Linked DNA regions of Homo sapiens: regions 2 and 3 are each linked to region 1. The links come from fine-mapping of genetic effects on gene expression. A gene starts in region 1. Each other region holds a variant in brackets. All regions are shown on one strand. Distances are between the middles of the regions.

The links.
Region 2: its variant is fine-mapped to the expression of RAB11FIP5 in memory regulatory T cells (Schmiedel 2018, PIP 0.95).
Region 3: its variant is fine-mapped to the expression of RAB11FIP5 in whole blood (INTERVAL, PIP 0.98).

The regions. Positions count from the first base shown.
Region 1 is chr2:73,107,045-73,117,274 of GRCh38, forward strand. RAB11FIP5 (RAB11 family interacting protein 5) reads right to left here and starts at 5,904. Exons shown (of 6, transcript NM_001371272.1): 1 at 5,303-5,904. The coding sequence starts at 5,733. RefSeq lists silencers at 4,512-4,755, 5,913-6,002, 6,073-6,232.
Region 2 is chr2:72,218,539-72,228,768 of GRCh38, forward strand. The region is part of intron 20 of EXOC6B (exocyst complex component 6B); the gene reads right to left. Among named protein-coding and RNA genes, the nearest start is that of CYP26B1, 76 kb to the left of the region's middle. The variant C/CTG (reference allele first, on the strand shown) is at 6,260.
Region 3 is chr2:73,087,882-73,098,111 of GRCh38, forward strand. RAB11FIP5 (RAB11 family interacting protein 5) reads right to left here. Exons shown (of 6, transcript NM_001371272.1): 2 at 998-1,434; 3 at 169-868. Among named protein-coding and RNA genes, the nearest start is that of RAB11FIP5, 20 kb to the right of the region's middle. The variant T/G (reference allele first, on the strand shown) is at 4,103.

The sequences.
Region 1 (10,230 bases):
CACCATTGTTCCCAAGGTAGAAATAACCTCAGGCCAGCTCAGTAAGGGCACTGTGATCAGACTCTTCCCTGAAGGGACTGCCAGGTGCACAGCAGACTCACATGTGGACTCATTTTTATTACTTGGCTGTGGGGAAGAACAAAACTGCTTCATGGCTACACTATTTTGCAAAGGAAAGAAAAAGAGGACTGCTTCCCCTGGAGCAGAGCCACAACAGCTTCTGTTCTTGTATTCATCATCTGTCCCTGCGTAGGGTGAGAAGGGCAGGAGAACATCTGGACAAGGCCAGGCCAGTGGTTTAGACAAGAGCGTCACAGCACTGAGGTGGCAGCAGTGACAAGTGGGGCGGGCAGCTCCCAGCAGAGAAGGACAGCCCTCAAGGTCACCGGGATGTGGCTCTGCTGAGCTGTGCCTTGCAGCCAGCTGCCTACAAGGAGAGACAGGTGGGGCAGAGATGGGGCTGACCACAGGCCCCTTGAAACTCCCTGGTCCCAGCCAGGGCTCAGGGCCAGGGGCAGATGGGGAGGGCAGGGGAAGCTGCCAGGCCAGAGAGGAGGAGCTGCCCAGCCTGACTGAGGAGTCACACTTCCTACCCCGCCCCACACCCCAAGACGCTGCTGCTCAAGCAACCCCAAATAAAAACCACCCCATAACTAAGGGCCGTGGAGCCTCGGCATACCAACGACTGGCTTCTGAGTGCAGCCACACCCTTCCTCTGCAGCCAGAGTAGACCTCCCCAGCAGTGCCACAGGCCTCCCATGCCAGCTCTGGGGCCGAGCAGGAGCCAAGGCCAGGGGCTCAAGTGACCACAGCTGTTTCCCGAGGGGCAGAGTCACACCCAGAAGCCAACAGAGAGAAGGCTGTGGGGTCACGCACCATCTGCCCACCAACTGTCTGCCCAGGCTGTCTGTGGGCTACGGGATAGATGGAAGCCCTCAAAGACCATCCCAGCCTTAGGCTAATGGGATGCATGTCCCCTCAGGTGCCTCCCAGTGCCCCCAAACCCACCCACCTAAGGAGGTCTCAGAACACCATGACCAGCCAGGCAGAAGGCTCTCATCTCAGACCTACATCTTTCACAGCCTCAGCTCTCCGAGCTCCCTTGCCAAGTGGCACAGTCTAAGCAGGGGCTGAACGGAGCCTCTTGCAGGCCACAATTCATGGTCACAACAGTTTTAGTCTTTGTGATGAAAAAAGACAAACTGATCCCAACCCAAGCTGAACCCACAGCCTTTGCTTTCCCAAGAGGCCAGCTTCTAACCATTGATCCAACAGGCCCAGGATGACGATCCTGTCTGCCACACTCCAGGCCTTACCGCAGGGACCATTTCACCCTTATCAGGATGAGGGAGAAGGTGGACAGGGGCTCCATATAACACAGTTGTGCTCTCTCCTCCTCTCCTAAAACACACAAAGACCAGCATTCCAGGGGGCAAAGACCAGGTCTCCCCAACCAAAATGGCCTTGTGGCAGATGCCCTGTCTTCTTACTCCAAAACCTTTGCTGCTGCTTCCTTCCTTCCCTCTTCTGATATATCCAGGTCCATTCCCTGGGGGTGTGATCCACACCAATCGCATAAAGACCAAAAAGGTCCAAATGACCCATCTGACCCCACAGGGAACAAGGAAAACTAACTAACCACCACATCCCATCCCTGTCTTGGGAGTTAGGGAGGCAAACACAGGACACCCACTGGGGAGTGCTAAGAAGGACGTTGGGCCAGGCGTGGTGGCTCATGCCTGTAATCCCAGCACTTTGGGAGGCCAAGACAGGTGGATCACCTGAGGTCAGGAGTTTGAGAACAGCCTGGCCAACATGGCAAAACCCAGTCTCTACTAAAAATACAAAAATTAGCTGGGTGTGGTGGCACATGCCTGTAATCCCAGCTACTCAGGGGACTGAGGCAGGAGAATCGCTTGAACCTGGGAGGGAGAGATTGCAAGTGAGCCCAGATTCTGCCACTGCACTCCAACTTGGGCAACAGAGTGAGACACTGTCTCAAAAAAGAAAAAAAAAAGGATGTTGAAGATAAAAACCAGAAAATAAATCGCAGAGAAGCATCCAGGATTTCCAGACCAACAGGAACATGACGATCCATGGACAGTTCTACTGAGGGTGGGGAGATCATTAGTTTCCTTGTGTACTACCATTACATTTTGTTTTGAGAATATCCTCTTCAATTATTTGGAAGCCTCTGGTGAAATTCCTCATTTCAAAGACTGCCCCACTCACACAAGACCTTCGGAGGCTGCTGAAGCACCTACAACCCCAGCCACCACCATCACACAAAATGGGGCCCCAGAGTCACCACCACGCTAATATTTTGAGAGCTTCTATGTATCCAGAACTACATTAAGGCTTTTACAGATGGTGTCTTATCTAATCTGTACAACTCTATGATTATTATCATGACCTTTTTCAAAGTGAGGAAGTGGGATAAGTAACCTGTCTGCTGGTAAGTCACAGAACGGGGAGTGAAATCCCAGTCTCCAGGTTTTTAAGCCCTGGGCCATCCTTCCTTCCCAACAGGGCAGGGGCAGCTCCAGGCAGGGCTGCCAGGGAGGAGAGCTGCAGAGCTGCGGGCTTATCTGAGCCTGGTTTCAGGACTGCAGAGGCCTCTCAAGCCCAGCCCTATTTCTTGGGCCTCTTGCAGCAAATAGAATACAGAGAGCTGCAAAGGGCCAGCTCATTTTGTTGGGAACTCTCGTACTCTTCTGTGTACTCCGTCACCCATGGTCCTAAGGCTTTCCTAGGCTCTAAGTTCTAGACTGTCTCCCCCATCCCATAAGAAGCTCTTCCAGACATTGTTACTAAAATCTCCCTTCACCATCACTGCTCTGCACTGACCACCTACCATGTACAGGGACTGTACTAGGTGCTTAAGCTGCATTTTCATTTCATCCCTCACATCAACCATATGAAGGTATAAATTATCTCCATTTTACAGACGTGAAAACTGAGGCACCAAGAGTTTATATGACTTGCCACAGGTGGCAGTTTTGGGACTGGGATCTGTCCAGTGCCACTCTGTAGCCCCTTCCTAACCATAAGGGTACCTTCCCCAGTCAGGTCCTCTCTTGGCAAAGGGCCACCACCTGCCCTACCTGAGACCACCACAGCCAACTCCTGGAGTTAAAGAATGGATACTTTTCATTTCCACCATTATCCAAAGCTGAGGAGGGTACACCCTGGTCTTCTCTGCCTTGCCCTCTCCCTACCAGGCAGCGTTCAGACTCAGTCTTGGTAGCCCACACCAGGGTGCTCCAGGAAATACCACCAGGAATGACCACTACAGCCAGAGGTGGGGACCACAGCGGGGGTGACAGCCCTCCCCCTCTGTCAGTGGGCATGCTGTTAGGTCCAGTAAACTAGAGCACCAGGCCAACTTCACAGACTTTCCTCTGCCCATCCTAAGTGACCCTCCCCACTCCTGTTCCCCCCCCGGTTCTATAAATAAACCAGGTTGTTGCATCAGAGAAAACAGCCAGGTGGGTGTGGAAAGATCCTGGTGGAAAAGATGATTTCTATAAAATAAATTAAGGTTCCCATTCAGATCAAGGGGTGGTAAGTCAAATTCTCCAAGACAGGCTGTTCTTGGCTGAAAATGGGTCCACCTGGACCTACAAGCTTGGCCAGCTCAGCTAAGGAAGATCCAGAGGCCAAGAGGAAAGCAAGGGCAGGAACTGGAAAAAACAATCAAAGAAGCTGCTCCCTGCAGGCCTGGAGCCTTTTTTTGGTCTGCCTCCTCCTGTTCCCCCAGCACCCCCTGAACAGATGTGTCATCTAACAGTCTGGTCAGAGTAGCTGATTGGTGGAGGGTGAAGGACTGGGGGAAGGGGTGGAATGATTTGGGGGATAGGCACCTCTTCTGAAAAAGAATGGGCTAAGAGATCCAGGAGAGAGCTTTTCGCCCCATATACCCACCCCCTTGGGCTCCAGGAACCAGGAAGGAGGGAGAGGACAGAAAGGAGGAAAAAAACAAGGTCCAAGCTATATACCACATGATCCCACACCCTGCCACCAAACAGCAAGTCATGAAGGAAGGCGGGGAGCAGGCCAGGGGATGGGGAAATGGAGTCAGGTCACAGCCATGCCTGGAACCTGCACTAACGCCCTCCCCATCCCAGACCACAGAGAGCCAGCCAGGAAAGTCATTCCACACCCATGTTTCAGAAAACATTCAAGGTCAGATCCTTTTTACCTAAATCCTGCTTTCATTTGGGTTTGCACCAGGCTCATCCCCCTCCTCCAGCAAGCCTTCCTGGATTTATTCACTCAGTGGATGCCATTCCACTGGGGCAAACCTTTCCGGCACCTCTCCTGACCTAAGGCACAGTCCTGCCCCAATCCCCTTACCCTCCTACCCAGATCACTCCCAAGTTAACCACTTGAGTGATCCACAGCAGGCTGTCAGCCCCGGGGACTGGCTTCCAGCTCCTGCCCAAGCCCAAAACAGGAAATGGGGCTCCAAGGCTGAAGCCTTGATCTTAACACAGGCAAGGTTAAATGCTGCCAAAATAAATGATTTAAAAAAACCCTGGCCCACTGAGGTGGAAGTGACCGGGAGATAATCTCCTGCTGTTCATTAACCATGCCGCTGCCTCTACCTCAGGCAGGGCAGGGCAGGCAGGCAGGCCACTGGAAGGCTGACTCAAGTGTTTCCTTCCTTAACTTAGAAGCTCCTCCTATCCTCAGACCAGGGACACAGGACACAGAGGGACAGGATGGGGGTGGGGGGGTGACATCTCTAGATAGTGGAGGGCATCTTGAGAGCAAGAGGCAGATGCCCCCTGCAGCCAGCTTCTACGTTTAGCGGGGTAATCAACATTCAACCTCGCCCTGGAGGAAGACACCTGGCTTTCCTTCCCCCGTAGGGCAAGGCTGCGCCTCTCCACTCCCCTGCCGGACAGGCGCCCGCAGTTCCCCTCCCCTTTGAGGAAAGGGAGGCAGGCCCGGAGGTTCTAAGAACGGCCCCAAGATTTCCCTTCTTGAGGTTTCCATAGCCCCAAAGCCTCTGAATCTCATTCCTAACTTTACTTGACAATCTACTCCTAACGTTCGCCACCACTTAAACCTCCCCCAGGCCTCCCAGGGACCACCAGTGGCTGAGCCCCACACAGCGCACGTTTGGGAAGCTTGAAGACGACCCCGAAATGCGAAGAACCAACGTTTCTGTCGGTTTACGCCCTTAAGCACGAGGCAAGGGCTCACTGGCCCGGCTGAAGTTCGGGGTCCTGATCCCCCACCAGCCCCGCCCTGTTAGGCCTTTAGCCGTTTCTGTGCCCCCGCGCCCCCTACTCACTGCGTGTGCTGGGCGCGGCCTGCGCCGAAGACCTCGTCCAGCGCCACCGTGGCCTGGCCCAGGAACTTGTCGACGCCGATGAGCGAGCGGTGCATGGTGGTGAGCACCAGCTCGCAGGCGGCGGCGGAGCTCGCGGCCCAGGGCGCCGGGCCCGCGTCGGCCTCCTGCGCCCGCAGCAGGCCATCCAGGGCCCCCGGCGGCAGCTCGAAGGAGCACTCCTCACGCCACTCGGGGCAGCCGTGCGTCTTCTCCACCACCGACGTACTGTACTTCTCGCGGCCCACCTGGATCACCGTGTACGCGTCGCTGGTGCTGCCCGCTCCCGAGCTCTTGCCCCGCAGCCCGCGGGCCCGCAGCACCGTCACCTGGACGTGCGTGGGCAGCCAGCGGGAAGGCCCCGCCGCCGGCTCCGCGCCCCGCACCAGGGCCATGGCGGAGAAGCGGGGGGCGAGGTCTGGCCGAGCCGGTGCAGACCCCAGGACCTGGTGACAAACCCGGCCGCGGCAGAAGGCGGTCAGGAACCAACTCTGAGCGCCGCCGCAGCTGCGGGCTGGGCTGGGCCGGGCCGACCGGCCGCCGCCTCCCCGCCTCACCGGGCCGCTGGCCGCGGGCCGCGCCGCGACGTCAGCGCCCCGCCCCCTGCCCCGCCCCGCGCCCGCCGCCCCAACCGGCGAGGCGGTGCGACAGGGATGCGGGCACGCAGCTCGCGCCCCGGCAGCCGCAGACCAGCCCGGAGCGGGAAGGGGCGGTGCGCGGCCTCTGCAGAGGGTGGGCGGAGTTCCCGCGGTGGCCCCGCCCCTGGCTGGGGGCGCCCGAAGCAACCCGGCCTCGCTTGTGGGGAGCCCTACACCCGCGGCCAGGTACGAAAAACCCGCTCTGCGCCTCCAGGCCAATCCCACGTCTTCCTTCTAAAAGTCCCTGCTCCGGAAAGCCCTCTCCGTAAAAGGGTCCCGGCCCGCAGTTCCTGGGATGGCCAGCCTCTTGGCGCGGACTTGGGGTGATGGGGACCCCCGCCGCTCCCCTGACCCCGGGCCGCGCTCTCCCCTCCTCCAGTCCGCCCCTGCGGGGGAAAATGCCGGAGTGAAACTGGAGCGATTGCCGCCCCGCCACGTGACGGTCCCGCATCGGCGACCTGGAAGCGGGTGAGCTGCCGCCGCCTCCAATCTCTCCCGGCGCAGGGGGCCGGGATGCGGCCATGCGGCGGCGCGGGAGGCCCGAGAGCGGGGCTCACCCTCCTCAGACTCTGCGGCGGAGAGCCGAGTGATGAATAAATGAGTAACCACATCAATATTTAAGTGTTCACTCGGAGCCTTGGGGCCAGTGTGTCACGGGTTGGGGGAAATTACAGGCCCTGGTGGGGGGTTAAATAACTACTTCCACCCATTATTAAGTGCCTACTGTGTGCCAGGGCCTAAGTATTAACGTATACTTGGTTTATTATTGATAATAACGATGTTTAGTAATTATAGATGCTGAATTTCAGCCAACTCTGGTCAGTGCGCTTTTATATGCATTACCTCATTTTATCCTCAGAGCAACTCTGTGGGGTGAGTATGGCTTTTATCCCTATTTTCCAGAAGATAAAATGTCAGCTCAGATGGGGGAGGGTTGTGAATCCACTAGATGCCCCCAGAGCGTTTTTTTTTTTTTTAACTTTCAGAGCCTGTACTTTTAAAATAATAATTTAAAAATAATACACACAGCTTTTTTAAAAAAATCAAATAGGACAGAATGGCTTGCAATGAAAAGCAAGAACTCCCTCTCCATCCTTCAATCCAGGGATGCTGCTTAAAGCCACTGGTGTTTTCAGGTCTGATGGTTACCTCCACATCACTACATTAAGATGCTCACATAGCTACATCTGCATTTATCAGGACTGGCCACTGTCTGTTGCCTTCCTCCTATGATAGATAATGATTTAGCTGGCTCACACCCACTTCCATCCCTCAATCTTGTGTAGTTATGCTATTATTTTTAGTTCCTCTATAGCAGGGGTCCCCAACCCTTGGGCCACAGACTGGTAACCCTCCATGTCCTGTTAGGAACTGGGCTGCACAGTAGGAGGTGAGTGGTGGTAGGGGCTAGCTGGTGAAACTTCATCTGTATTTACAGCCGCTTCCTATCGCATTACCGCCTGAGCTCCACCTCCTGTCAGATCAGCTGTGGCATTAAATTCTCCTAGGAGCACAAACCCTATTGTGAACTGTGCATGCGAGGGATCTAGGTTGCATACTCCTTATGAGAATCTAATGCCTGATGATCTGTCACTGTCTCCCATCCCCAGATGGGACCATCTGGTTGCAGGAAAACAAGGTCAGGGCTCCCACTGATTCTACATTATGGTGAGTCATATAATTGCTTCATTATATATTACAATGTAATGATAAGAGAAATAAAGTGCACAGTAAATGTAATGCACTTGAATCATCCTGAAACCATCCCTGCCACCCTCAGTCTGTGGAAACTTACATTTTGGTCCCTGGTGTCAAAAAGGTGGGGAACCAGTGCTCTATAGGATACCCAACAGGAGAAACATGTATTTCTTCTTAGGGAGACTCCACAGTACCCCTCAACTGTCCACCTTCCAGGCCATGTCCTCTACTGGGAATATGAACCTAGGAAACCAGTAGAGTAGGCAGAGGAGACCCATGATAGCACACCCAGCACAGGCCCAGTCCTCACAGCCTCCCACCTTAACTCTTCCATCAGAAGACTGGAGTGGGGAAGTCCTAGGCACCAGCCCCATGGTCCAGCAACCCTGACGATAGCACCTAGCTTTAGAGACAGCCAGATCTGCCTACAGATATTGGCCATCTGCCTCTTAGTAGCTATGAAACCTGAAGTTTAAGCCAACTCTCTAACCTCTCTTGGCCTTATTTCTCCATTTGGATAATGGGATAATGATTCTTACCTCAAGCCAGGCGGAGTGGCTCACACCTGTAATCCCAGCACTTTAGGAGGCCCAGGCTGGTGGATCACTTGAAGCCAGGAGTTCAAGACCAGCCTGGGCAACATGGTGAAACCCCACCTCTACTACAAAGACAAAAAATTCCCCTGGCGTGGTGGTGGGCACCTGTAGTCCCAGCTACTTGGGAGGCTGAGGCACAAGGATCACTTGAACCTGGGAGGCAGAGGTTGCAGTGAGCCAAGATTGTGCTGCTACACTCCAGCCTGGGCGACAGAATGAGACTTTGTCTCAAAAAAATAAAAAATGGGGCCAGGCCTGGTGGCTCATGCCTGTAATCCCAGCACTTTGGGAGGCCGAGGCGGATGGATCACTTGAGGTCAGGAGTTCCAGACCTGCCTGACCAACATAGTGAAACCCCGTCTCTTCTGAAACTATGAAAATTAGCAGGGCATGGTGGGGCACACCTGTAATCCCAGCTACTCAGGAGGCTGAGGCACAAGAATCACTTGAACCTGGGAGACAGAGGTTGCAGTTAGCCAACATCGCACCACTGCACTCCAGCCTGTGCAACAGAGTGAGACTCTCTCTCAAAAAAAGAAAAAATGGAAATAAATCATAACGCAACCATCCATAAATAAACACTGTTAATAATTTGTTGTGTTTCTTTCTAGTCTTTATACTGTATGTGTTTGTTTTATATACATTATGGTTTTTGAGACATCTAAAGTATAATTATTAAATCTGTGGGCTTTGGAGTCCTGGTTCTACCATTACTTTATATATATTATCACTCTTGGCTATAAGTCTGTATACTAAAGAAAAAGTATATACATATAATACTTACACACACACACACACACACACACATAGTCATGTTTAACCCTGAAGATAACCATTTAAAGCAAGTGCTACCCTTGGTTTCACTGATGAGGAAACAGAAGCAGGAAGAGCTTGGGTGATTTTCCCCAAGTCTCCAACCGGAAAATTGTAGAGACTGAGTGGCTCTACTGGCTGTGGTACTCTGCTCTCACACCAGCTTGTTGGTCAGCCAAGCACTAGATCCATTTAAAGTCAATAAAGAAGGAAGTGTTCTCATACCCATTTTACAGACGAAGATTGAGGCAACCAAGGTTACAAGAGTCAGGATGAACCTCCCACTTTAAGAGTGAATTCTTCAAGGACTTTGCAAGTGACGATATCATCACTAAACTTCAACTAACATAAATGTGTCACTCCTTCAGCGGGTCTGTTTCATCTGTTTGCCTGTTCTCCAACGTTACTGCTCCTACCTCCTCCCTCCCTCCTCCTCCGCCAAGGAGGAGCAAAGCACCAGGAAAGGGGAAAAGGTGGAGAGCACTCAGATGGCTCCTCTGCCTCACCTGCCCTCTGGCTCTCTTTCCTCCTGCCTTGGCCCTCACAGATTGGCAAGCTCAAGCTTCCTGCTGGCTCTGGACTGTGGCTGGCTATAGGAGGGGAACGAAACCAGCCAGGGCTCCCACCCCACGTTGCCTGGCCCTAGAAGGAAAAGCCAGGTCTGCTAGCTGTCTGTGGTTGAGAAAAGAGCAGAAACACCAGATACTGAGGTCTTGGCCATCTAAAGGTGTGTTTCCTCCTCTATAAGATGAGATCCCCCCCACTCCCTGCAGCAGCCTGCATAAGAGTTAGACAAGAAGACCCCAAAAGCATCAGTTTCCTCTGCCTCCCCAGGGCTGGGTGTCCTCACTGCCTTCCTGGGCCTCTCTAGTCCATTGGAGACAGTTCTTGCTTGAAAAGCATCCACCTATGTGTAGCTTCCACTCATTGCCCCCTCTTCAGTACCACTAAGCCCATTTGCTTTTCCATGTAGACACTTCACATGTATTTGTCCTGCTCTTCCAGCTACATTTCCCTCTGTTCTTCACCTCACCTTCCTGCAGCTATTTTCCAGGCCCTCTTTATAGCAGAACCACATGCCCAGGTCTAAGCCCTGGTGCCACCACTTACTAACTGTATAAGCATGGGCAAATTACTGAACCCTACT
Region 2 (10,230 bases), 890 kb before region 1:
ACACTGTTCCTTACATTGATAAGTTTTCATTTGTTCCCAGAACCTCTTCTTTGCATTTATCCCTCATTGCTTGCTCCAGTTTTTATATTGCCTTGATCCGTCAGCTCTACTCTTAATATGCCATTTCTTTTTTTGTTTGTTTTTTGAGATGGAGTCTCGTTCTGTCACCAGGCTGGAGTGCAGTGGCGATCTAGGCTCACTGCAACCTCCGACTCCCTGGTTCAAGCAATTCTCCTGCCTCAGCCTCCTGAGTAGCTGGGATTACAGGCACGTGCCACCATGCCCAACTAATTTTTGTATTTTTAGTAGAGACAGGGTTTCATCACATTGGCCATGATGAAACTCGTGATCTGCCCACCTTGGCCTCCCAAAGTGCTGGGATTACAGGCATGAGCCACCACCCCTGGCCAATATGCTATTTCTTAAAAAAAAAAAAAGGAACAAAGGAAAAAAAATGGAGAGAATGAAAATAACAACCAATGTCTTAGTAACTTAATTGTACCTGTGGTTGTTTGTATCAGGGGGCCTTGCTTTCTATGGGCGACAAGAGGCACTGGCATTCCATAGTGATAATACTGAAATAAAGGATTGGTCTGGGATTCCTAAGACCAGAGAAGAGAAGGCTGAAGGGAACATCGATTGCAATCATCAAGTGCCTAGCCATGTGTGAACACTGATAACCGTTACTGGTCTCACTTTCTAAAGCTTGGCTCAGACAGTGGCAAGAGGGAGCAAGGGGGAAGGAGGAGGGGGAAGAGGGCAGGACTATATGATCTTCAATGATCATTACCAGATCTGGGACACAGACCAATGGTTTGGACAGCAGAATCCAGCTACTAAAGACTTCTCTGCTCTCAAATTTTAAGCCCCTCTCTCCATGCTGCAATACTGCTTGAGTTCATACAATAAGTCTTATGTCAAGATTAGCAGTTTATAGTATTGTCATTCTAGTCTTGAGGACTCACAATTTTACCTCTTTCATTTTTTCTCCTCCTAGCATTCCTCACTCTTTAAATATTTAGTTTATTATTCTTTGTTTTCCTTCTCTTCCCTACTCTATCTAACCTAAGCTAAGTCAAACAGGAAGAGGAAGGAATTAGTGTTGTTAGAGGGTCAGCCATAGGTTTTCTCTTTTCATTTTTTTCTGCTCTGGCCTCAAACAAGTAGCACTCCCTAAATATGAAATAATGAGGCTGCAGCATCCTTCTGCCTTAATCCATCACCTAATTATAACTATCATTATAGCACTTTCAGTTTGCCTCATTTTATTTTCACAATCTTTTTTTTGTAATTGGTAGTACAAAGATCATTAGTATCCCATGTATTTATGAAAAACTAAGGCTCAGATTGGTTAAGTGATTTGTGCTGATGGAGACACAGTTGAAGACGGGTCCATGTACCATGAAGTTACTGGGGACCTGACTCACGGTACAGCCTCCGGTAAGTCACTTAACCTTTTTGTGACTAATCTCCAAAATGGGGATGAAAGTATCAACTTACTTCTCAGGGAAGCTGCAGAGATTAAGTAGCCAATAAACAATTGTAAAGGGATTTGGAAATTTCAAATACTACATAAATGTTTTAATAAGCTTTTAATGTTAAGGCTCCACTAGGTATCCATAGATGGAAATCAGGTGAATTTATCTGCTGGCATTCGTATTTTCCAGGGCCTGAAGAAAGTGGATTGAGCTCGTTTAAGGACTATACTCCATTCTTTCTTAATTGCTTCTAGGTGCTGGCCCTGCTACTTGCAAGTCCTATCTCTGCTGCCCCTCCCCCAGTTGAGCCCAAGCAGATGTGTTGCTCTCTAGAATCTGGCCAAGGCAACTAGAAAATACAGGAAGGAGGGCTGCCTCCTCATGCCCCCTGGGGGCAGCAGAGATGATCACAAGCAGACTCCTATCATTAGCCCTAGAAACCTTCCAGATGGGCACTCTGACCTCCAAGAAAACATCCCTAATAATTTGCAGGGCATTCAAAGAAAGTACTGTGTGGTTCTGGCCACTAAAAAGTGATCTAGGCTTGTATTTCGGATCTTCAGGCTATATATTTCATCCCTTCAATGAAATTCACTTAACTTGTTTTATAACAAGCTTATTATATTGCATAGGGAAATTCGTGACAACATCATATCAAAGAAAATATTTGAAATCAATTTACTTTATAAGAAAAAAAATCTCTAAAGAACGATGAAGACAAACTGTGCACGATACACTACTGCTGTACTAACCTCAAACATTGTACCCTGGGTAATGTTGTTCAGTTTTGTGACTCTAAAGACATTTATTTCCTTATTAATTTTTTTAATTGAGGTATAATAGGTGTACATAGTTTAGGGGTACAGGTGATAATTTAATACATTCACATACTTTGTAAACACCAAATCAGTTTACTTAGGATATCCATCACCTTAAATATTTGTCTTTTCTGTGTGCTAGAAACATTCAAGTTATTCTCTCTAGCTATTTTGAAACGCACAATAGATTACTGTAAACCATAGTCACTCTACTGATCTGTTGAACGCTAGGTCTTATTTCTTCTATCAAACCATGTATTTGTAGCCATTAGTCAACTTCTCTTCATCCTTCTCCCACACCCTAGTTAGTTCCCATTTCTTTTCTGAGACTTACTTTTCCAATCTGTAAAACAAACACAATGGCTTCTGTCAAAAATCTGCCTCAAATGAAAGTCACTTTAAGCCAGGATTGACATTCAGTTGGTACAACGAGTTTCTACTTGTGAAAAATAAGACTAAAGGACTCTACGTTAGTTACTAAATTTAAAAATGCCAGTAAATTTTAAATGATAAACCATGGCTCTCCCACTGCCTGCAAAGCTATTCTCACAGATATCCGCCTATTTCATCTCCCTCAAGGCACTGTCATCTCTCACCTCAATCAGGCCTACTCTGACTACAGTATTTAACACTGCAACCTGTCCTCCCAAATCCCCATACTCTCCAATCCCTTTCCCTTTTTCTGCTTTCTAATTCCTTCTACAGCACTTATTTACAACTACAACTACAGAATCTATTATTTATGCTTATTATTTATCTATTTCCTTACTCGTCTACCCTAAACTGTAAACTCCATGAGGTCAGGAATCTCAGCCTGTTTTGTTCATTGATGTATCTCAAGTGCCTGGGACATAGCAGATGTTTAGCAAACATATGGTGAATAAGTGAATGAATGAATAATCCTCTAAGAATAATTAACTTTTAAATTACCCAGGGGTAGAACTAATTTCTTCTGAATTGTCACTATACTCAGCTCAGGGTTTGGGCCCAGAAGATATTTAAAATCATGTTCTATTTGATTGACGTTATATCTGAAAATCATAAATACTCTGTGACTAAATTCTTTTATCTGTCTTCTCTTTGGTTTGGGGAAACTCTTATGAATTAGCCAGCCAATTAACAGCATCAAGATGAGGAGGTGAAACTGGGTAAGGGCAAGGGAGATGAAGGAAAAGGTGAAAGATGACTGAGCAGAGATCCAGAAGTATTGAGAAATGGCCAGTGAACTCACCATGATAAGTCAGTAAGAGCTTCATGGAGAATTCACTAATGGAATAGCCAGGGAAGATGGGGACTCTTTTAAACATGTACAACTTCTGTTCTGTTTTTTGCTGGATCCCACTACCTGGTGTGTTCTAGGTACTTGAATAGTGAGTCCTAGAAGATATAGGGAATACTATGACTGCCACTCTACACTGCTCTAGGAAAATGCAATGTGTGGAAAAGTTCAAAGGGTTGGCTCTGTGTCCACAATTGATCGCAAAAGGCTTTCTACAGGAAAGGTGGGCCTTAAAGTATGGGGGAAAATGTTTTTTGTGTAGACCACAAGAACAAGTATATAATGATTATATTTTTATAGGCAGAGCCAAAGGCAAGGGACAGTTTATTCAAGAAGCTTCTTAATCATTTTAAAATACAAAAACCTTGTATATTTGAGTGTCACTGTATCTAGTTATTGATAATCTCAAAAACAAATAAAATGCCCTGGACTAGAAGCTAAGCTGATTATCAGCTGGAGAGAGCACATAACCTTTCTTCTTATGATACATACAGTGTCTCATAATTGTGTCCTTATGGGGTACAAGTATATTCCTCAGGAAATATCTGGTACTAGGCTGTTTTAGAGATAGGTCATGCAGCTGGTGGGCTACATGGGTCATTTTTGTGGAAAATATTATTATTATTGCACAATGAGCTGTGTATCTCATTTAATGCATCACCAGCATTTCAAATAACTTATCACAAGCTACTTTGAACCCTAACTGGGCAGAGGGAACTCTCCTGCTAGGCATCTCACATATTCATTATCCTTCAGTAACTAAAGCAATAAGGTGAGGCTGACGGCTAAGGCACTGAGGAGGTACTTTTATGTAAGGGTTTGCAATATACTCACTCTCTCTTCACAGATTAGTGGTTATATATGTGAGTCACTAGCACTGAAAATGTGTAGCAGCAATAGCATCTGTGTTCAGTATGTCTCTAAGATTCATCTTCTCTGATCTATACCCCTGCCTCCATCCTATGCCAAAAACCACAGCTGCCTGTTCCTTGGTCACCAGGCTCTGCTCTAATTCGTTGAAAATGTAGAAGGAGCCCAACAGGCAGATAAAGGTATGAGGGTTAACTGATTTCAATAGCTAACAGTCACTGAGAGACCACTACTCAGAAAATACAGTGGAAAAACAAAACAACAAAACACAAAGACTCATTCAGCTTGTTTTAAATCGGACCATACACACTTAGACTTTGGGAAAGTGAGTAAACCACCAAGTTATGAGTGCAGTGTATAAAAGATAAAAATCTGAGTTATCCCTTTGTGGTTACAGATTATGAAACCATTTCAGGCTCTCCCTAGACAGTATTCCTGATGAATAGTAGATTGCAAACAGAGCAAGCCAGAAGGGTTAGCATCTCTGATTACTATCCTGTTAAGATTTTTTCCCAAGCATCCTTGTATAGTTTAAAATTAAATTTTTTGCCTTTGTAATCTGTAGCCTTTGTGTATATATCATCTAATGAAAAGGGCTTTTTTGAATTAAAATGGTGTTTGGAAAAAGAACATGTGTTTCTGATTTACTATTAAATACATTTATAAAGACAGAAGGCTCTCAGACCTAGTGAAGGCCTGTTTTTTGTTTGTTTGTTTGTTTGTTTGTTTGTTTTAAAGCAAGAGTCCTGTAACACTTCAGGAGGACAGAATCCCTAATGCAAACACTCAGATGGACTGGGGCATAAGTTTTTGGGTAGAGAGTAATTGTGGAGCCTAGGAATTCAGATTTGTCTTGTCTGACCACCTTAGGGGTAAACACACTGCTCTGTCTTTTCCCAGCTAGTTGGTGAACTTGGCATCTATTAAACAGGACATTTTGGAATACAGGCGATTCCAATTATCACAATGGTCTTATGTTTCAAGGCTGTTTGTTTATAAACACAGCCACTTTCTGTTTAATTTCTCTCCTATTTTGGTTTATTTAAGCTCCAATTTTTTTCCAGCACCTAAACGAGGATTTTTGAGATTTATGCCTGGCCAGTATGCATTAAATTAATAAAAGGTATTAGAAATGTATGTTATATAAACATCTAGTTTGCATTTGCTAGTAATCAGGGAAATAGGCAACAAAGCAATGAGAAGTTGCTATTTTACACCTAACGATTAGCAAATAAATTAAAAATATTAACTCCTCTGCAAGGTTTTGGTAAAATCAGCATACTCCTCCACTGCAAATAGCACGATGACAAATCATTTTGAAAGAAATATTACCTTATCTCTTGTGAATCACAAAATATTTCTACCCCCTACCACAACGATTTCACTCATAAACATTTACCTGAAGGGAATCATCTACTAGACTAAAAATGCTATATGTACAAAGATACATACTACTCAATTCTCAGGAAAAAAATTTAAAAATAAAATCAACAGTACAAAATTGGAAACACACTAAATAAATGGATTTCAAGTAGGGTACAAGTACTCTTTCATTGGAAGGATGTACATCAGAATCTTCTTGGAGAGAAAAGGAGGAAGGAACAAATAAATATATGTGTAGTTTCAAAAAGCATATTGAGAATTATCACTGCTCTTATTTATTTGAGACAAAGTCTCGCTCTGTTGCCCAGGCTGGAGTGCAGTGGTGCAATCTCCACTCACTGCAGCCTCAACCTCCTGTGCTCAAGTGATCCTCCCACCTCAGTCTCCCAAGCAGCTGGGACTACAGATGCATGCTGCCACGTCCAGCTAAT[C/CTG]TGTGTGTGTGTGTGTGTGTGTGCGTGTGTGTATGTGTGTATGTGTGTGTATATATATATATGTATACGTAAGTGTATATATATATATACATCTATGTGTGTATATATATAGATGTGTATATATGTGTATATATATGTCTGTGTATACATATATTTCTGTATGTGTATATACATCTCTCTCTGTATGTGTGTGTGTGTATATATATATAAATACACATACTTTTTTTTTTTTTTAGTAGAGATGGGGTTTCGCCATGTTGTCCAGGTTGGTCTCAAACTCCTGGGCTGAAGTGATGCATCCACTGTGGCCTCCCAAAGTGCTGGGATTATAGGCATGAGGCACCGCGCCCAGCCTATTTTATTTTAGACATCAAACTGCTTTATTTTATAATTTGAAATAATACTACATAGGATATCATATTTTTATGTTCATTAAAAGAAGTATAAGAAAGTTTGAGAAATGGCAATATAAATATCAATAACAAGTCTAACAACAGTCAGAAAATTATAACAAAACAACAATGACAAATTAATGCTTACTGAGCACTTGATGTGTCAGGTATTGGGCTAAGTTCTTTGCAGACATTATTCTTTATTAAATTTTCATATTTCTAGGTGAAAGAGTTGTTGACACATTTGACACTGAATTAAAAAATCATTATTGGAATGAGATAGTGACATAAATATTCCTTTAGTGGCCCTAGAGGACAGGGAGGATCCGAGGCTTGGGTTTACAAGCCTACGTGGAGACTGTGAGACAATTACTTAGACTTGTCTATGGAGCAAGGTTAGAATTAAGACTTCTGTGTGAAGACAGGGCTCTTCAAGAGCTGAACCTTGGTGAAAGGGTAGACCAGAAAACAAATCTACCCCTTGGTATAGGGAGATGATAAGGAAACCTTTTTATCATGGCATACTAAAGTAAAATACAGTTTTACATTTTTCACCCCCTATCCCTATTCATTTAACTATATATTGGGCATTATTTCTTATCCATATATAAAGCACCTCTTTATTAGTATCCTATTAAACAACTATAAAAAATGACACAGTGAATAATTTGGTAAATGCATGTAAGTATATAAATCTGTAGGACTGAGTCCCTGGAGTGGAGCTGCTGGATCAAAAGACATGCACATCAAATTCCCTCCTCAGAAGTTGTATCCATTTATAGTACTACAGCAACAACCGCGTATGTGACTCTCTCGCCACACCCTAAGAAACAGTGTGTTGGTAACTTCTAAAAGACTAGAAATCGAATGTAAAACCCCTTTTAAAAGAATAGAAAGAGAATGTAAAACAACCATTTGCTGGAAAAAGAGGGGAAAGGGGATTTAAAAAACAATCAAATAGAAGACAGAGAGACTAAGGAGATATGATGATTGAATGCAACGAGGTATCCTCAACTGGGTCTTAAAACAGAAAAATGGCATTAGTAGAAAAACTAATGAAATTCAAATAAAGTCTACAGTTTAGTTAATAGTAATATATCATTGTTAATTTCTTGTTGTGACAAATGTTTCACTGTAATAAAAAACAGATGTTAACATTAGGAGAAACTGAGTAAGGGCACACAGGCACTCTTAAATACTGTCTTTGCAACTTTTCTGTAAATCTAAAATTATTCCCCCAAAAGTTTATTTAAAAAAACAGAGCGAAAAAGACAAGGCTATCCCAGCAGGGGAGGAGGCAGTAGAAGGAAAGACATGAAGGAAGAAAATAGCACCATCCACACAAGGAACTACAGGGCAGTTTGGTGTTGCTGGAAAGTAAAGTTGTACTCTTAATGTGTAAGTTGTTTCATTATTCCATTTTCCCTGCCATTCCCTTTAAAAATCTAGGTTTACTTAGGTTGTCATGTTTTACAGAAAAAGTGTGAATTTAGGTTTTATGTTCACTTTGACTAGGTCATAATGTCATTACCAAAGCACTCTCATTCTGGCAGCACTTATGAAGGGACTAACTTCGCTCATTAAGTCAGTAGACCTGGCACATCAGTGAATTGGTTTTCAAGGTACAGTATGTGAACAGCCAAGTGGTGATTATTATATATATTTGACATCTCTGTCAGTCAATTAAATAATGTCAAAAGCAAAAACAAGTGTTTTAAGATTTGGGAATCTGCCCTCTTAACCAGAAGCAAATTTGTTAGATAGGTAGGAAGCAATGGAATTGACAACCACTATATAAAACCAAAAGAATTATATCTGCATTCCATACATTCATAGCTGTAATGCTAACATTTTAAAACCAAAATATAAAAAATAAAAGATAACAAAACAAGAGAAGCAAATAAAAGGTATGATAAATAGCACAATAAGATGTTAAAAAGGAAAATATGACAGCAATGATCTAAATTCATCAGTTAAAAGATAGAGGTTCTCAGATTGTATTAATAAGCAAATCCAACTATATGCTGCCTATAAGAGATAAATTTAAAATATGAGGATGCAGAAAGTTCAAAGTCAAGCAATGGAAAAACACATACTGAGCAAGTACTGAAAAGGAAAACCGGTCCAGTAAAAACTATCAGGTGAAAAAGCATTAATAGGAATAAAAAGGGTCACTACACACTAGTAAAAGAATAATTCACCAAGAAGACATAAAATTTCTAAACTTGTACATAACCAATAACATAGTCTGAAAACACACAAATACACAAAGTGAAAACTGAAACTATTATAAGGGTAAACTGATATACCATAATCACAGAGGGAGATTTTAGCACCTTCTTTCAGTAACGGATAAAAGAAGATTTTTAAAAATTAGTAAAAATGTAGTAGATTTGAAGAGCACAACTGATATGTTTTATCCACTGGATATGTAACATTGCATTCATTTACCAGAGAATACACATTCTTTCAAGGATCCATGGAGCATTTACAAATATTGGCCACAAAGATGCTATAAAGCAAACCTTAATAAATACCACATTCTTTTAATCACTGAAATAAAATTATAAATAAATAACTTAAATCTATATGTCTTCTTTTTAACAAGAGTCTTTCCCTAGGATGTTTATAATTTTACTCAACTTAGCAAAACAACTTTGTAGTGTAAAAACAAAACTAAGGAGGTGATAGCTTTATTTTAGTGTTACACAACTAATGTGGCTTCCTAATGTTATTCACCAGGCCAAGAAGAGTATTGATGATGGAGGAAGAGTGATTGCAAAGATAAAATGATATGAAAGGGCAAGGAATTTGGGGGAAGGTATGATTGAAGTATAGATGAGAGAGAAAAAGTAGAAAAGGCTGTTAAAGTAGATTGGAGTCAGGAAGTTCGGATTTTACCAGGAGAAGGATGTTTGGTTTTGGTCATTTAGGCAAAGGGAAGCGATCAAAAGTGTCTAAGTATGGGGCTGATGAGGTATGGTAGGACATGGAGTTGACATCACTTGATAATGCACCTTATGTCCAGGGAAATGAGTAAAATGGGAGAAAAAGAAGAATCAAGAATAAATCTCAGGTTTCTTTTTTTTTATTATACTTTAAGTTTTAGGGTACATGTGCACAACGTGCAGGTTTGTTACATATGTATACATGTGCCATGTTGGTGTGCTGCACCCATTAACTCGTCATTTAACATTAGGTATATCTCCTAATGCTATCCCTCCCCCCTCCCCTCACCCCACAATAGGCCCCAGTGTGTGATGTTCCCCTTCCTGTGTCCACGTGTTCTCATTGTTCAATTCCCACCTATGAGTGAGAACATGCGGTGTTTGGTTTTTTCCTTGCGATAGTTTGCTGAGAATGATGGTTTCCAGCTTCATCCATGTCCCTACAAAGGACATGAACTCATCATTTTTTATGGCTGCATAGTATTCCATGGTGTATATGTGCCATATTTTCTTAATCCAGTCTAACATTGTTGGACATTTGGCTTGGTTCCAAGTCTTTGCTATTGTGAATAGTGCTGCAATAAACATACGTGTGTATGTGTCTTTATAGCAGCATGATTTATAATCCTTT
Region 3 (10,230 bases), 19 kb before region 1:
CAGAACGAACCTTGGCTTAGGGAGACACCCCACTAAACCATGCAAAGCCAGAGCCCCAGCAGCCTGCCTGAGGTCCATATCTACTCCTTCCTCCCTGCCCCAGGGTCCAGGCAGCACACACCCCAGCATCCTCCCCAAGGAGCAAAGTTGGTCTTGCCAACGACTTACCTGGGTTTCTGAGTCGGGTCCTTGGCTTCTCTCAAGCCAAACCAGCTACTCTTGGCCTTTTCCTCCCCACTGGATGAGTGATGTGGGGAGGCCCCCAGGATGGGACCCCCCTTTTCCCCCAGAGAGCTTCGGCGACCCAACTCGCTCCGACTTAGGCCTTGGTGGTGGTGGTGGAAGAGACCCATCCGGGGCTTGCGTTCCTCCTTCCGGGCTCCCTCCTTCTCTGCCACAGCCTCAGAGGAGGCCACTATGGGTGTGGCAACCTGGACTGGCTTGCCCTCTGGTAGCCGGGCCCCCTCCTCCTCTCCAGGGTGGCTGGCCCCAGGGGCCAGGACTTTAGCCTGAGCACTCAGCTCCTCCTGTCCAAGCACTGCCTCTGAGCTGCTGTTGCTACGACTGCCTCTGGGCCAGGTGTCATCTGTGGAACGAGGCCCCTCCTCGGAGAACCGGGAAGAGACAGCTTGCAAGGAGCCAGAGGATGGAAGCGAGCCCGAGATGGAGCTGCGGTGCCGCACAGGGCCCTGGGGCTCCTCATTGTAAATGTGGCTCCCATTGACACAGAGCGAAGAGCGGGAGGCAGCATCCAGGTGGCCCTGAAGGTCCAGAAGGGCCCGAGGAGGAGCCACTCGCATCTGGTTGGCCTCATCGCTGTAGGTCCTCTTATGGGTGAACAGCTTGGGGGACTGTGCAGAGTCCCTGCCTGCAGGGGAAACACACAGAGTTAGCTCGCAGGAAGAGAGGCCCCATTTCCTGGCCCCAGGCCTTCATCACCACCCAAGGGGAGAGCCAGTGCCCCCCTCCCCAGGGCGGCGGCCCTGTGCTTGCTCACCCCCTTCAGTGGACAGCCAGCTGCTACGGCTTGGTGAGCGGGTGAGGAGTTCGGCGCCAGGTCCCTGGTAGGCCAAGCTCCCGCTGGCTGAGGACAGGGTGCTGTCCGAGCCCAGCGAGGTGTTGGACTGGGTCAGGGACGACTTGCGCAGCTTGTTGCGGAGGAAGAAGCCTTTGGCTTTGCCCATCTTGCCCAGGCTGCCCAGGTCAGGATCCTCTATGGCGCTGCTTGGGAGGATGGCAGAGGCAGATTCCAGATCATACTTCTTCTTGCCCTTCATCTTGTCCCTGATCTTGCTGAAGGGAGACCTTGGCTTGTCCTTCATGGACAGGTCAAACATACTGGCGCTCAGGTTGTTGCGCGTGAACTGGATGGTGACTTCAATCTCGCCGCGTTCCTTCTCCTTCTTGCCTGGCTTGGAGTGCAGCTTGTACCACCTGTGAGAAGAGGGGAGCAGGCAGAACTCAGTCACGGGCCCAGGGAGCCTGGCTCCCGCCCGGTACCAGGCACTGCCCAGACCCCTCCTTGCTCTGAGAGCCACTGATAGCCTCTCCCCAAAGGCTCCTGCTCTGACCCATCGGCCTGGGCTTCCAGGCTTCAGATGCAGCTGAGAAACTATCCAAAACATTTCCATGATGGAGAAAACCACATCCTGAGTGGGGAAGCTCCTCGGGTGCCACCAGGTAGGGCGGCGGTTACCACACCATGCCTCCTCCCACCCCAGGACCTTCTCCTGGTGCTCAGAGACCTCTCCTCTGCCCCATCTCCCCTACATCTGAAACTCTGAGGCCCAGAGGGGTGAGGCTGGGCCTGGGAGAGCCCTCCCATCTCCAGGCCCCAGCACAGACAGACCTACCCACATTTCTCCCTGTTGACATCATCTCCTCTGGCCAGTCCCAGCCAAAGCTCTGCTCCCAGCCACCGTGAGCCCAGGAAAGAACAGCTCACCCAGAGGCCCAGGGCCAGGAACACAGGAATGCTAGTGCATACACTCATGTATGTATACACACACACACACACACACACACACACACACACCTCACTCACACACTGACTCACCCCAAGCCCTGTCAGGAATACCTCTACAAGATGCAGGAACAGACAAGAATGGCAGAAAGAGACCCAGGAAAGACGAAGAGCGCTCATATCTGTTGAGCATCTATGGTGCATTACGACCAGCATGAGGGTTCTTACCTCACTCCCGCACATACCTCCCAAAAAGCATATGAGGTAAGAGGTACTACCCCATTGTACAGATCAGGAGGGTGAGGCTCAGTGGTAAAGGAACCCATCCGTGGAGACTCAGAGCCAGGTGTCCAGCCCTCCAAAGCTTAAGTTCTTCCCGGTGCACACCCACTGTGCCCAGAGAGACACAGAGACAGCCCCCAACACACATGGCCACCACACAGGGTGGCTGGGGCCCGCCCTACTGGGGAGAGATGTTCTTATGCAGGGGTTGGCAGTTTCTTAGAGAACTAAGCAAACTCCGATCACACAAGGAGCAATCACACTTCTTGGTACTTTGCCTACTGAGGTAAAGACTTATGTCCAAAGAAACACCCTGCACACAAATGTTTATAGCAGCTCTGTTCATGATTGCCAAAACTTGGAAGCTGCCAAGGTGTCCTCCAGTAGGTGAAAAGATAAGCAAACTGTGGTACATCCAGACAATGGAATACTACTTAATGATAAAAATAAATAGGCTATCAAGCCATGAACAGACACGGATGGATCTTACATACATAAGTGAAAGAAGACAATCTGAAAAGGCTTCATGCTTGCACGACAAAACTATTTGACATTCTGCAAAAGGCAAAACTATGGAGACAGTGAAAAGATCAGTGGTTGCTGGGGGATTGAAGAGAGGACAGAGCGATGAATAGGCAGAGCACAGGGACTTCTCAGGAGAGAAAAACTATCCTGCATGCTACCGTAATGGTGGACATGCATTGTTATACACCCACAGAATGCACAAAACAGCAAGTGAACCCTAACATAATGTATAGACTCTAGTTAACAATGACGTGTTGATATTGGCTCTCAAATACAACAAACATGCCACACTAATGCAAGATGTTAACAGAAGAAATGGCGGTGGGGGCGTGGGTGGAGTAGATGGGAACTCTCTATACTTTTCACTCGTTTTTCTGTAAACTTAAAACTGCTCTGAAAAATAGACTTTATTAACTAAAAAAAAGAGAGCAGGGAACACAAAAAGGAAGAAACTATGAAGGAAATCATACAAGAATGTTTTTCTGAACTGAAGAACATGAATGCTAGAACAGTCCTACAAGTATGCAGCGCAATGAACTAAGACAGACACATGCCAACAGATATGACTATGAGGCTTAGAACACCAGGCATGAAAGGATTCGAACAGCACTGGAGTCTTCCTTAGCAACACTGGGCACCACATGAAGGAATGTCTTCACATTTCTGAGGGAAAAGCCTTCCACTAGCCTGGAATTCCAGACCCAGCCAATCGAGCATGAAGGTGGAATAAAGCCCGGTGGTAGTGGTCAGGCTGGTCACTAAAGGGCTCAAAGTCCCTTGGTGACTGCACAGCACACACACACATACACACACACACACACGCACACAGAGCTACCCAAGCCGCAGTCAGTGATGCAGGATCCACCTCCCGCCTGAGCTCTGCCCCCAACAATGCCAGCTCCCTGAGCTTCTGGTGGACACAGAGTGGGGTGTGGGGAGCCTTTGTATGAAAAGTCCCTATACATCCAAAGATCCAGAATTAAGTCACAGCAAAAGCTTGGTGGTAGTGGTGGTAGTATTTTGATTATTTTTTAATGTTGAAGTTTTTTTAAAAAGGCTTCCTGGGGCACCTCTGACTCTTCTACATCCCTATAGAAGAGCCCATCATGACGAAATCCTGGTGGGCTATGGCCCGTCCCCTCCGTGGAGACCTACTCCGCAGCCTGAGCGGCCTGAGCCTAGACTTTGGTTTTCCCTCCCAAACCTGAGAGACAATCCCCTGAGAAGGCCGGGTAGGAACAGATGGTGCCACAGGCAGGGCGGACAGAGAAAATGCCCGAGCGGGTGCCTCTCTCATAAGGCACGGGCAGAAGTGAGGGGAGGAGAGGCTAA[T/G]TGAGACAGACAGACTGGAGGATGTATGTGAGGGTGTCTGTGGGGCAGGAGAGGAAGTTTGACAGAAAGACCAGCCAGCAGCATCAACAGCCTCACACCTCTACGTTCTCAGCCCAGTGACCACCGTGGGCCTGACCCTTTACCTATTTAGAGGCCAAGCCCTAGTCACTTTCCCTAAATCTGGGCTAGGCCCTATCTAGCACAGGAAAGTCCTGGGAGGTAGGGCAAAAGAGAAGGGTATGGACTCCAGCCCCAAACCGCCCAAGCCCTGAGTAACTAGGATCAGCAAGCACAGCCAGCCTTTGCTGGGGCAGACAGGTCAGGGGCCCTCAGCCCCAGCTACTCACACTGCACACACCACAGCGGTAATGCAATTACCTGAGGGGACCGGGGCCCTGTGGTGAGATTGCAGGGAACTAGCACTTCCTACATTGTCTATTTTTGTCCTATTTGAATGTTTTATAAGGAGCATATATTACTGTGGTAATAGGAAAAAGAGACAAGGGAAAGCTCTTGCTCCTATCTCATCTCAGCTTCCTGAGCCACAAAATGGGCCGTGCTCCTCTGCCTCCCAGCCCTCAGAGGAAGGCGGGAGGCCGAGTTTCAGGTCCTTTGCCACAAGGACCTTTTGGGCCTCTCTCCCCTATAAGGTCACTTCCCCTTCTCCTGTTCTGCCCAGCCCTCCCCCACAGGGAATTTGGGTTTCTCCCTGGACTTGTTTTTCAAGGAAGCACGGAAGGAAAAAGAAAAAGCTTCCCTGAATATTTTTTAGGCTCTCCCATCCAGAGCACAGTGAAATGGAGAATGGCCAGGACCTACCTCTGGACCCCAGCTGCCATCACTCGTCCACCTCCCTTCCAGCCCCACCTCCCTCTGCAACCCAGTCAAGGGCAGGACTGAATGGGATACTGCCTGGCACCTTGGCCACCCTGGGCACCCCAGGGACTCAACCAGAGCAGACCTTCTCCCAGAAGTATGGCCTACATGAGCTGAGATGGCCACATCCTCCCCCTCCCTAGAGGTGCTACTTCCCTGTGCCTGGACCAGACAGCCCCACAGACCTGTCGGGCACCATGGAGGTCCACTGGAGAATGGAAAACTATGAACACTGTCGAGGGGGGCTGAGGAATCCGCAATGAAAACAAATGGAGGCTTTCTTTTCACAGAGCCCCACACGCAGCAGAGCAAATGGGCTCTGAGCACCTCATCCCTAGAGACTGAAGCCCCCACGGGGAATATGACAGCAGGGTCCTATGACCTAGTTCAAGTCCCACTCCTCTGGGAAGCTCCCTCAGCTGCCACCATCCTGCTGGCCTGGCCCAGTCCCTCCTCTTTCTGACCAGGCATACACACTCTGAACCAAACTCACTCTACAGCCAGATCTGGCAGCACCGTGCCCCAGGACCCCCTGGTGTTGTCATGTCCTGGGCACCCAAGGTCTCCCTTGCTGGACTGTGTTTCTTGTGGATATTGACTGAGTATCCCCTGGGGCACACAGCTCCAAAGTAAAGAAATCATGCATGCACAGTCTGGAGCTGTTACAACCCTGCAGGGCCCTCTCTCAGCTCTCATCTGGATGCGCCTGACAGCAGGGCATGGTGGTGAGTGCTGGGTCCCCCACTGACCAGGTCACCTCCCTCAGCCTCCGCTTCCTTGGCCCTCAGGTGGGGACAACCATCCTCTTGGCTGTTGGGAGGCTAAGGCACGCCAAGCCTGGTTGGCAAAACCAGCTTATCCTCTCACTCTCTCCCACGACCGTGAGCTCTTAGGACTCCTGCTCTTGAATCCCTGACGCCGATCGCTCTGCCTAGCCTTCAAGGGAACGTGCCAGATCCTTTAATAAATATTCAACCTCGGACGCGCATGGTGGCTCATGCCTGCAATCCCAGCACTTTGGGAGGCCAAGGCGGGCAGATCACTTGAGGCCAGGAGTTTGAGACCTGCCTGGCCAACATGGCGAAACCCCGTGTCTACTAAAAATACAATAATTAGCTGGGTGTGGTGGCACACGTTTGTAATCTGAGCTGCTCGGGAAGCTGAGGCATGAGAATCACTTGAACCTGGGAAGCGGAAGTTGCAGTGAGCCAAGATTATATCACTGCACTCCAGCCTGGGCAACAGAGTGAGACTTTGTCTCAAAAAAAAAAAAAAAAAAAAAAAAATCCAACCTCAACTTCCCAAGTCTGGCTGTGCAAGAGATAGGCCCTGGTCTCCAGTTTTGGAGATTCTGCTACTGTTCCTTCCTCCCTACCTGATCAAGGTTTTTTCTCCCTCTCTGTGCCCTTCACCAGGCCTAGCTGACTGGGGCACTGGGCTTAGGAACTCCAAAGCCCAAGCTGAGGCCTGACCTGTCACTTTCATCCAGGGCAGAGACATGGCCAAAATCAATCAGGGTGTGACCAAGGCCCCAACATTCATCTAGACAATGGCTCACAAGACAGCTCTCATTTTCACAGCTCCACAGCTGTAGCACCCAAACCTGCTATGCATCGGTGCAGGATTTATATACAGATATAAATCCACCCAAGACGCCACCCAGACTTACTGAACTAGAAGGTCCCGGCCTGGTTATCTATATTTCTCAGTGGGTTTGGGGGTGGGGCCCCACAGGTGAGTGAATTCACCCAGACCCCATGTGGGAACCACAAGGATGGTCCCTAACGCTTTACATCACTTTAAGGTCAGCGGCCACCTGGGCTCTCCACCTGGGCTTGTCCTTAAGGACACTCAATCGGTACCCAGGAGAAACCTGTGTCTTTCTCCTGCCCAGTAAGGCTTGCCTTCCCAAGTCCCGAGGACACGCTGCTTCTGAGAGGACTGACCCTAGAAATACTCATCCCTCCCCCAGGAGGGGGTAAGTTACCAAAGGAACACACTGGGGAGGAGCAGGCAGCATTAAGCACTTTCTAGAAATTAAGAGTGTTAAGATGAATTAGGCCTCCTAGATCAGAAACCACTGGAGAAACAACACTCTCACCAAACCAGGAGGAAGGACAGTGATTCTGCCCCCATACAATTCCCCTGACACCCACCTGGTGCTCAGAGTCCGGGCTGCCTGCAGCACATATATCACTAACTGGCACATCCTTCACTGCAGGAACTAAGCTGCTCCACCTGCAAAGCACCCACCTTGACTTCATCTCTCTGTCAGGGGCACCATCTGGGGCACTTGAACTCTCCAAGGCCCAGCCAGCACATGCTCAGGACACAAGGGTTTTGATGAAGATGGTGATTATCTGGGACTTGTCCCAGGTGCCTCTGCAGCCAGGACATGATGGACACAGTAAGAAAAGGCACAGTAAGAGAAAATTCCTTGCACCTGAAGAGGCACACGCAGCTACTGATGCTGCTCTTCAGAAGACACACATCAGTGCTTCTCAAACTGCAAAGTGCAAAAAAAAATCACTGGATCTTGTTAAAATGTGTATTCTGATACCCAAAGTGTAGGTGGACCTGAGAGAGCTCCCAGCTACCCATGCTGCTGCTGGCCCAGAGGCCACACCTGAGCAGAGGGCTGCACATGAGGGGGCTAGAGAATGGCCAGAGCTGACCCTGCTGAGGGCTCACTGTGTGCCTGGCTCTGCAGCTCTTTTATTATCCATGCAACCAGCCCAGGAGATGGGAGGCCCATTTTACAGATGAGGAAACTAAGTTGTGGAGATGGTTTGTAAGTTGCCCAGGGCCACACAGCTAGTAAGTAATGGAGCTGGAACTTGAACATGAAAATGCCAGCCTCCAAGCCCATGTCCTTAACCTTTAAGGTTTAGCAACTTTCAGAAAAGCAGAATGCATATACTCCTGCCCTGAGTACCCTGAGAAGACAGAGGCCAGTAAAGGCCTGGCTACACATCACAGACCCTGAAGACCAGACCCCCTTTCAAAAGGTTGGCACAATCCCAGAGCACAGAGCCCTGAGATGCCACTGAGGGGACCTCAGGGTTTTGTCCTGTCCTTAGCCCCTCAAAACCTTGTCCGAGAGCAGCCCAGCCTCCCTCAGAAGCCATCAGGGTCCAGAATTCCTGAGAGGCTGGGACCACAAGGAAGCTCTTACAGGGCCCCCTGCTAAGCTAGAACACCTCTCCCAAGCTCTCTCTGCCTGACAAAGTTCACCAGGCCCCGTGTGGACTTGGGTCTCGGCCCTCAGCCTCCCCCCACCCACCACCAAAGCAGAGGACAAAGTGGATGGAAGGGGTGGAGAGGAGCAAGTCTGCTCACCTGTCACCAAGATTACAGCCCTAGTTACTCCTGCTGGTGGGGTCCCCAGGCCCTCATAACCAGCTCTCCACCTAGTTCTCAGAAAATGAAGCTGGGCTAACCAATGCCATCCAGCATAACTGGGGAGGTCCTGCACTCAGGGGAGAGCTGACCTGGGGCAGCTGTCACACATACCCATGCAAGTGCCAGGGAACTCCAGTCAGAGACAGACAGGGGTGTGGGGGCTATGGGTAGCTGCAGCAGCAGGCCTGGACACATCTAACTCACCCCCAATTCTTATCAGTCTAAAATTCAGACCCAAATAACAATGCCCCTTTCTGAGCCCCCACTCATCATTTATTCCAGACTCCAAACAACCTAGAAACCAGATTTGTCTCTTCTTTTCCCTCACTCCCTACATCTAAACTTCAAACTCTGTGAACTCTACCTGCAATTATCTCCAGAACTCACTCTCTCACCACTGTCACCCCATAGTCCCATCCACCACCACCTCCCTGATGGACATTAGATTTCCCTGTTTACCTGACGTCCACATTCCACCCAGCAAAGACGTGAAGTGGGAGCTCAGCACGCCCCGCTCTCCCTCACTCAGCACCTTTTGGGGCTTGGCTCCTCTGCATCTCTCATTCCACTTGGGCCACAGTGATTCTCCTGGTGTCCCTGAACCCATCAGGTGTGTTCCCACCTCAAGGCCACTATACGTGCTGCTCTCTCTGCCTGAGACACAGGCCAGACCTTCTGGCCATGGTTCACTCACTCATTCGAGTTAGGGCTCTGTTCATCCAAGCCTCCTCAGTCTTCCCTGAGTACCCCAACTGCAACCACCCCTCACCCTCTTTATGTTTTTATTTTATTTTGAGATGGGGTTTCACTCTTGTTGCCCAGGCTGGAGCGCAATGGCTCGATCTCAGCTCACTGCAACCTCCACCCCCAGGTCCAAGCGATTCTCCTGCCTCAGCCACCTGAGTAGCTGGGATTACAGGCATGTGCCACCCCGCCTGGCTAATTTTGTATTTTTAGTAGAGACGGGGTTTTTCCATGTTGGTCACACTGGTCTCGAATTCCCGACCTCAGGTGATCCACCCGCCTCGGCCTCCCAAAGTGCTGAGATTACAGGCGTGAGCCACCACGCCCGGCCCCCCTCACCCTCTTTCATCATCATACTGATCACAAGCTGGCACTGGTGTGTGCACACGCATGTGTCCCCATGTGCACATCAACATGACAAAATGCTGCACATGTTCAAGGCTTGTTAGCATCTGTCTTCCCTTGCTCAACAGTCAAGTGCATTATTCTGTTCATCTCTGTACCCCCAACACTTAACAGTGGACACTCAAATATTTGCTCAATGAGCCAACAAATTATTCTGTGACTAACGTGGGCCCCCTTCACAACTGCTCTATGGTTTTCTACTGCTACAAACCCATGGGTCTTACTTGTGAGAGCTGGAGCTCCCAAAGAGCAAAGAGGATCCCCACCCCACCTGCCAAACAGGAGCCTTTGGAGGGCAGGAGCCAGAGATGTCAGGCTTAAAGGGAGGTTTCCAGAATGAGACCTTCTTTAATTGTGAGACACTTCCTCAGCCCCCAACTGAACTAAGAATCTCACTAACTTCCCTGGGAGAGAAGATGCCCAACCAGATGTGGGACGCATCCAGCTTTGTGAACAGAGGAGTCACTGTTGACCCAACTCCAGCCCATCTCTTGGCCCAAAAAGGCCACTGATCTTATCCCCATTACCAACTACAATCACTCAGTTAGCACCTACTGTGTGCTGGCACAATACTAAGCACTGAACACATGGAATTACATCTTACTCAATCCTCTTAACAACCCTGTGAGGTTGATATGGGAGGCAGACTCTGGAAGTGGCTAAGAGCATGGACTTCGGTGCCAGGCTGCCTGGTTAAGCCC